Regions from separate parts of the Homo sapiens genome. Here region 2 is linked to region 1. The links come from fine-mapping of genetic effects on gene expression. Tissue or cell type: whole blood. Region 1 holds a variant in brackets; the other region holds the start of a gene. All regions are shown on one strand. Distances are from middle to middle.

What was found. PIP is the estimated chance that this variant, and not a neighbour inherited with it, causes the effect. A credible set is the group of variants that fine-mapping cannot tell apart.
Region 2: COL7A1 starts here. The variant in region 1 is the best candidate, but not a certain one, in a credible set for the expression of COL7A1 in whole blood (TOPMed, PIP 0.53).

The regions. Positions count from the first base shown.
Region 1 is chr3:47,759,877-47,764,194 of GRCh38, forward strand. The region is part of intron 2 of SMARCC1 (SWI/SNF related BAF chromatin remodeling complex subunit C1); the gene reads right to left. Among named protein-coding and RNA genes, the nearest start is that of SMARCC1, 20 kb to the right of the region's middle. The variant G/A (reference allele first, on the strand shown) is at 1,823.
Region 2 is chr3:48,593,113-48,597,271 of GRCh38, forward strand. COL7A1 (collagen type VII alpha 1 chain) reads right to left here and starts at 2,217. Exons shown (of 119, transcript NM_000094.4): 1 at 2,156-2,217; 2 at 1,963-2,048; 3 at 1,256-1,436; 4 at 425-584; 5 at 244-337; 6 at 1-151. The coding sequence starts at 2,047.

The sequences.
Region 1 (4,318 bases):
CAGTGAGCTGAGATCATGCCATTGCACTCCAGCCTGGGCAACAAAAGCGAGACTCCATCTCCAGAAAAAAAAGAAAAAGAAAAAATGTATCAGCCCGTACACAGCAATGACAATAAACAAATTACAACTATAAGCAATAACACAGAAAAATTTGAGGCCAGGTATGGTGGCTCACGCCTGAAATCCCACCACTCTGGGAGGCCGAGACGGGCAGATCACTTGAGGCCAGGAGTTTGAGACCAGCATGGCTAACATGGTGAAACCCCATCTCTACCAAAAATACAAAATATCAGCTGGGAATGGTGGTGCACACCTGTTAATCAGCTACTTTAGAGGCTGAGGCATGAGAATCGCATGAACCCAGGAGGCAGACTGCAGTGAGCCAGGATCGTACCACTGCATTCCAGCCTGGGCAACAGAGAAAGGCTGTCTCAAAAAAATTAAAAAAAAGAAATTTTTACAAATGTAACATTTGTCTGCATGCTTCAAAAATGTTAAGTCATGGGCCAGAGGGAGTGGCTCATGCCAGTAATCTCAGCACTTTGGGAGGCCAAGGCTGACAGTTACCTGAGGTCAGGAGTTGGAGACCAGCCTGGCCAACATGGTGAAACCCAGTTTCTACTAAAAATACAAACATTAGCTGGGCGTTGTGGCGCATGCCTGTAATCCCAGCTACTGGGGAGGCTGAGGCAGGAGAATCATTTGAACCTGGTAGGGGAGGAGACTGCAGTGAGCCAAGATTGTGCTACTGCACTCCAGCCTGGGCAACTGAGCAAGACTCTGTCTCAAAAAACAACAACAAAAATGTAAGTCATAACAAACAAACGTCAATCAGCTGTGCGTGGTAGCTCAAAGCAGCAATCCCAGTACTTTGGAAGGCCAAGGCAGAAGGACTTCTTCAGTCCAAGAGTTCAAAACCAGCCTGGGTAACACAGTGAGACCCTATCTCTATCAAATTAAAAATTAAAAAATTTGGCCAGGTGCTGTGGCTCACACCTGTAATCCCAGCACTTTGGGAGGCCAAGGCAGGCAGATCACTTGAGGTCAGTAGTTCGAGACCAGCCTAGCCAACATGGTGAAACCCCATCTCTACTAAAAATACAAAAATTAGCTGGGTGTAGTGGTGCACACCTGTAATCCCAGCTACTTGGGAGGCTAAGACAGGAGAATGGCTTGAACCCGGGAAGGGGAGGCTGCAGTGAGCTGAGATCGCGCTACCACACTCCAGACTGGGTAACAGAGCAAGACTCTGTCTAAAAAAAAAGAAAAGAAAAGAAAAGCCAGGCGTGGTGGAATGTGTCTGTGGTCTCAGCCACTCAGGAGGCTGAGGCAGGTGGATCAGTTGATCCCTGGAGGTCAAGGCTGCAGTGAGCTATGACCATACCACTGTACTTTAGCCTGGGTGACAGAGCAAGGCAGTATCTCAGAAAAAAAAAAGACAGGCTGAATTATCTCAAATTAAATAAGACTAAAAATATATAACTAAATAAAATATGTGGTGTTGGTGTGGATCTTATAAAGGACATTTTTGAGACAACTGGTGAAATGTGAAGATAGATTATATGGTAAATAATGGTATTATATCAAAGCCAATCTCCTAAATTTGATCACTGTATTTGCCAGGATAAATCCCATGTTCTACAGAGATCTGTGCCTCAGTCTCAAGTCTCTCAAGCTATTCCCTCCCTGCTAGATTGGACCTGATGGATGATGACAACTCAAGTGACTACGACTGCTGATTTCTTTCACGTAAGTCCATCCTTTTATTCTTGCTTCCAAGACCTATATGCTAATCTGTTTTCTCCCTCATCCATTCCACAAA[G/A]TCCTAGAATCAGCATGATTTTGGCAAAACAATACCATTCTCACATACGGATCATAAAATGTTCAGTAAGAGAGATCATAACATTTGCCAAATTCAATAGTTTTCTCCTATTTCATTTTTTTCTTTTTGAGACACAGTCTCACTCTGTTGCCCAGGCTGGAGTGCAGTGGCACAATCTTGGCTCACTGCAACCTCTGCCTCTCAGGTTCAAGCTATTCTCCTGCCTCAGCCTCCTGAATAGCTGGGATTTTTTTTGTATTTTTAGTAGAGACAGGATCTCACAAGGTTGACCAGCCTGGTCCAGAACTCCTGATTTCAGGTAATCCGCCCGCCTCAGCCTCCCAAAGTGCTGGGATTACAGGCGTGAGCTACCATGCCCAGCTTGCTTTCTCCTATTCCTTTGCCACAGAACATTTTTAGAAACTCAGAGAGAGGACTATTAAGAAAAATTGTTCAAAGTGAAACTTGAAGACAACAGATTCTTCTTAGCCCTCTGCATTTACTCCTCCCCTCCCTCTTCTCAGATGCTACAGGTACTCCCCAGGAAATAATTATAAAACCAGTGATCAAGTCCAACTCCAACTGTAAGCCCCTTCTTATTAACTTCACGTTCCAAACGGTTTATTCAATCAAATGAAAACAGACTGTTAAAGTGACAGTCCTCCAACTCCCACCCTTTCCATTACACCAGACTGATCCAGTTGGTGAGAATTCCTGCCATGAGGTCAGTCATACTTACTGGGAAGAAATTCAAAGGTGTCAGAAAGAGATAGCTTATGAACTGTGACTCATCTAAAACATCCCAAAATAGTATTATCCAGTTCAATCACACCACCACATTTGTTAGAACTGGCTATGACAACATTTTATGCTCAACGTATTTACAGGTGTTCCACCAAATCACGTAACAATTGAAAATAAATTTAGAAAATGTTGAATGAGGCTAGGCACAGTGGCTCACACCTGTAATCCCAGCACTTTGGGAGGCCGAGATGGGAGAATCACCTGAGGTCAGGAGTTTGAGATCAGCCTGGCCAACATGGTGAAACCCTGTCGCTACTAAAAATATAAGAATTAGCCAGGTGTGGCTGGGTGCAGTAGCTCACGCCTGTAATCCCAGCACTTTGGGAGGCCGAGGCGGGCAGATCACGAGGTCAGGAGATCGAGACCATCCTGGCTAACACGGTGAAACCCTGTCTCTACTAAAAATACAAAAAATTAGCCAGGTGTGGTGGCAGGCACCTGTAGTCCCAGCTACTCGGGAGGCTGAGGCAGGAGAATTGCTTGAACCCAGGAGGCGGAGGTTGCAGTGAGCCGAGATCACGCCACTACACTCTAGCCTGGGCGACAGAGCGAGACTCCATCTCAAAAAAAAAAAAAAGAGAAAACGTTGAATGATAGTTCCCTTAAAATAGGTGTATCCATCTCCTCAATGCATCTCCTTCTTCAACAGTAATAATCTTTCTTTTCCTCTTTTTTATTTTTCAATCTTTTTTAGAGACAGGGTCTCACTTTGTTGCCCAGGCTAGTCTCGAGTTCCTGGGCTCAAGTGATCCTCCTGCCTCAGCCTCCCAAAACGTTAGGATTACAGGCATGAGCCACCACACCCAGCCCTTTTGGGTCAACACTTTCAGAGGACAAGGCAGGAGGATAGCTTGAGCCCAGGAGTTTGGGACCAGCCTGGGCAACAATAGCGAGACTCCAGCTCTAAAAAAAAAAAAAATTATAAAAACATAATAATTTTTTCAGTGAGTTCTGACAACTGCTTTAAAATACGTCAGTATTACACTTTACATTTTTGTAGATATATTAAGAAAAGCTCAATTTCACAAGATTGTTGCTCAGGCTAGTCTCAAACTCTTGAGCTCAGAGGACCCACTCACCTAGGCCTCCCAAAGTGTTGGGATTATAGATAGGCATGAGCCACAGTGCCCAGCTGAGATTTTTTTTTTAAGAAAAAAAATATATATATACAGTATTCTGTTTTATGTTTACACTATATTTTCACAACACAAAATACTTCAGTTAGGTTTTTTTTCTCAAACAGGGACTCACTGTCGCCTAGGCTGGAGTGCAGTGGCATGATTATAGCCCACTGCAGCCTCAACCTCCTGGGCTCAAGAGATCCTCCTACCTCAGCCTCCCAAAGTAGCTGGGACCACAGGCATGCACCACCACACCAAGCTAATTTTTTTTTATTTTTTGTAGACGGCTCTCACCATGTTGTCCAGGCTGGTCTCAAACTCCTGGGCTCAAGGACTCCTCTAGCCTCAGCCACCCAAAATGCTAAGATTATAAGCATGAACCACTGCACCCAGCCTTTCTCTTTAGGAAAAAAAAAAGAGAAAGAGATATTGATGGGATTTCGCTCTATCACTCAGGCTAGAGTGCAGCAGTAGTACTACTGTAACTCATGGCAGCCTCTAACTCCTGGGATCAAGTGATCCTCCTGGGTCAGCTCCCAAGTAGTTGGGACCACAATCACACACCACCATG
Region 2 (4,159 bases), 830 kb after region 1:
ACAGGCACGCCACCAGCAGTCGTGCACACTCTCCGGGAAACGAGGGGCAGTAGTGTCCTCAAGATGCTGAAGTCATTGACGAAGAAGAAGAAGTCACTGGTGGGCTGTGAGGCAACTCGCTTCAGCTCCTCAGGGTCAGCATTCTTGATCCCTGAAGTGACGACCCATCAGGACTCAGTCACCCACATGCTCTCTGACTGCCCCCACCCCCCAGCTGACCTGTCACTCCTGCTCGGTCCTTACCCACAGCAAATAGCTTGACCCCCTGCCCCTTCAGCCTTTGGGCAGCTGTGTCCACCAGGTCCTGGGACTTCCCGTCTGTGATCAGGATGCAGACCTGGGACAGGTGCAGGGGTCAAATCACGGTTCCCCTGGACACTTCATTTGGGGTCATCTTGGGAGGCATGGTAGGGGTAGGGATCACCTTGGGGACACCAGGTCGGGCCAGCTGGGGCAGGAAGACATGGTCAGCCACATGGAGAATTGCAGCCCCTGTGCGAGTGTTGCCCCCCTTGTAGCTAAGCTCACGGATGGCGCGGATCACATCACCCCCAGAGCCAAGTGCATCCAGGCCGAACTCTGTCCTGTTGGAGGGTAGGGGTGGCAACAGGCTAGGACTCAGGATCTCTTCTGGCCCTGGCCTTGAGGAGGCCTCTAGGGTGAGGGTTACGGGTATCAGGCTCTCTTGAGGGGTCCCTTCGTTCTGTCATTCTCCACACCCACTTGCCTCTGGAACCCCCAGGTTAACAAACTCCCCAGGGGCTCCTTTGTGCACCATCTGCAGGTGGGCCTGGGCAGACCTGAAGGAGCCCTTAGGGGCTCACAGTCTGTGGGGAACAAGATGCTGCTTAATTAAATAATTGCAGGAGGAGGGGTCCAGATGTAGGAAAGTGGATGCTGGCCAGATGGAGCACCTCTGGTGAACGGCTGCAAGGGTTAGAGGGCTAGAACGTGGAGAATCCAACAGGCGTGGGGGCCCCCTCCTGGGCTCCCCATCTCCAGATCAGAAAACACAGCCTCACTGTCTTGCACCTTCCTGTCTTGCAGTAGCCTGGAGGTGCCTCAGGGCACGAAGGTTCTACCTAGGGAATCCTTACCTCTGTCTCCAAAGGAGGTCCTGGCTAGGGGGTCTCTAGGTTCCCCAAAACTTGTTTCTGCAAAGACCTGGCCTGGGGTTTCCAGGGTCTCCTCCCTCTCTGGGGAAGGAGTCTTGGTGGGGATCTCGTGGTCCCCAGCCCCCAGGGCCCCTACTCACCGTGGGTCATCGCTGTACTGCACTGTGGCAAAGCGCACACCCTGTGCACTGGCTGCTCCAGAGAAAGGCAGCACCAGCCCTTCGAGAAAGCTGCGGACCTCGCGGAAATTGCTGCGGCCAATGGATGAGGAGCCATCCAGTAAGAACACAATGTCAGCGGCGTAAAGGCGCGTGCAGGTCACTGGGGCGGGCAGGAGAGATCAGGGCCTCTTCTGGGAGGCCAACCACCCGCCTACCCGCACGGTGGCCTCACTGGGACTTGGGATGGTGGGGAGAGTAGGCCTCATCTTATGCAAACCAGGGCCGAATCGGCCTGAGCCTGAGGGCCTTGGAGGGAGTTGAGCTCGGTGGGTCCCAGAGCAGACTCCCGCGGAGGGTTGGGGGTGTGCGGGGGAGGGAGAGTCGCCAGCACGGGTGTGGACTTGGGACTGAGGTCAGCCTCTAGGGGCCGGCGTGGATTGGCATAAGGCAGGGGACCCCGCACGCATCCAGGGAGCCAGAATTTGGGTAGGAACAGGATAGGAGGCGGTTTAGGGAACCCAGCACCGATCGCGGAGGGTTCGGGGAGTCCCAGAATTAGGAGGAATCCGCGGGGCGTCGTGGAGTTGGCTGGGTTGTGGGCGGGGGGTGTTGGGGATGAAGGCCGAGTGGAGCGGAGGGTGGCACGGTGCAGTGCCCCGGGCCGGGTCCTCCCTTGCGGTGCCCACCTCTCTCCCTGTGCTGGGCTCGCACTCGGGGCGCCTCTGCCAGGATCCCGGCGCAGAGCGCGGCCACCAGAAGCCGCAGCGTCATCCTAGGCAGTAAAAGCCGTCAGCTAGGACCCCCGCCTCTGTCCCTTGCTCCCCCGTGGCCTTGGCAGGTCCGAGCCCAGCGCCCCTCCAGCCCGAGTCCTGGTCTTGCCTGCGCGTCCGCCCGCTCCCGCCGCCGCCGCTGCAGTCTCTCGGGCAGAGCAGAGAAAAGTCCCTGATCTCGGGGGGCGGAGCGGCAGGCGGGAACCCAGGCACCCGCCCTCACCCATATCCCTGAGAGGTCGCCGCCCCCCCCACCCCTCCCCCAGACAAACGATATGACGCACTTAACTATAAACCCCCCGACCCCCCGTGGCTTCTGGGAATTTCCCAGAAGGTTCTGCATGGGCAGATGCTGAGGGAGTACCCCTAACTCCATCTAAGGTCACAGGTCTTGGCTGCTTTAGGTCAATCACAGTGACCAGGCTGAGGAGTGGACAGGTTCCTGCAGAGCCACAAGGCAGCAGCGCCGTGGGGGGTGGGGCTGCAGTTGGGGATGACTCACCCCCAATCCAGTGGGGGTGCCCAGACAAGCCCTCAGGCCATGGGTCCCGCCGGCCACTCCTGTGATTCAGCCATCTGTCTGGTGGGCCTCCTGGGCCCCACCCGGATCTCCTTGACAGGCAAGAAGCCCTGGCAAATGAGTGACTCTGGGCCGGTCTTAGGGAAACCAAGGTCCCCTTGGCCTGGATCCAAGTAACTCACCCCCTCTTTGTAGGGGATAAGCCGGAAGGAGGAGAGAACCTGTGTCATGCTTATGCATACATCCCAGTGTCCCACATCCCCTACCATGTCACAGGCAGATGCAATCCAGCTGTGCCTGCAGGGAGGGGGCCGCCCATCTGTGGAGGGCGGGACCACCCACAGTGACAGCTCATCTCTCAGGAATCGAGCCCTCCATGCCCCAGGCCAGGTCCCCCTACCTACATGTCCTCACCCACAGGCATCCTCTCCTTCCATCTACTTTTCTTGTAGGTCCCTGCCACCCATCTCCCCTACCAGGCCGAGGTCCCCTTGGGCCCCTTCCTCCTTTCCTCACTGCCCTCATGGTACCTGTAGCTTCCAGCTTCATAACTGCCCCCTACCTTACTCCTGTCCCCTTACCCAGGCTGACTTCACACCCTCCCCCAGCTTCGCTTCTGAGGCTGTGGACAGTCCTCCAACACACACCACGCCAGGGCCACTGTCCGAAGGAGGTGGGGCTCTGTATATGCATATCTCTCCATTAGATGGGTGACACTAAGGCAGAGAGGCACTGCTAAGAAGGGCAGGCCCCCATCTGGGTCCTGCTCCCCCTTTTTTTCCTGCTAATCCTGAATAACTCTGGGCAGCCCAGAAAGCACATCTATACTCACCAAGGCTGCTGGGCCCCTTCTAATATGCCCGGCCCCACAGCCTCCCCTGGGATCCACAGGGAGATATGGGGACAGCACTGGCTGGACTCCTCCACAGCCCGAGGACTCTGGTGTGGCCAGAGCTGGAGGCAGTGAAGACCATCCATGCTGCCTGCTTTCCTATTGCCCAAGGAAGGCTGGGGCTCTATCCCTTATTACTGACCCCCCAAACTATCCTGGGGCATAGTGCTATGACCTTATTCCAAGGTCAGGGTCTCCTCAGCCATGTCCCAGGACCCCCCATCCCTGCAAGGTGTGCTCCAGGTGGGGGGCTGCAGAGAACCAGGTATGTTATCACACAGGCAGCCCCTTCCCCCTAAGACTGTCACCTCCTCCCGTGCAGCCAGGGCGGGCAAGAGCAGGCCAGTGGCATGGACAGTACGGTACAGACATATGTGCACACGTGGGCCAGTCTTAGGGGAGACAGGAGGCCCAGCTGGGAGGGTGGGTGCTCAGGCAAACCTCATCAGAATTGAGGTGCCTCCAAAAGAAAGGACAGGCTGCTGTGAGAGGGTCTCTCAAAGGGTGCTGGGAGAGGCTGTTGAGAAGGTAGGAGTAAGGTTGGAATGACTCCACGTCTGGAGCTTCTATGAGACTCACGAGCAGGAGTGTGGCCCTCTGAAGCCCCAGCTCTGGCCTCCTGGGAGGAACACAGCCTAGGGCACAGCCCGAGGCCAGTGCCTACCTGCAACCCCATCAGGGCGGTGGAGCCCCCAGAGCAC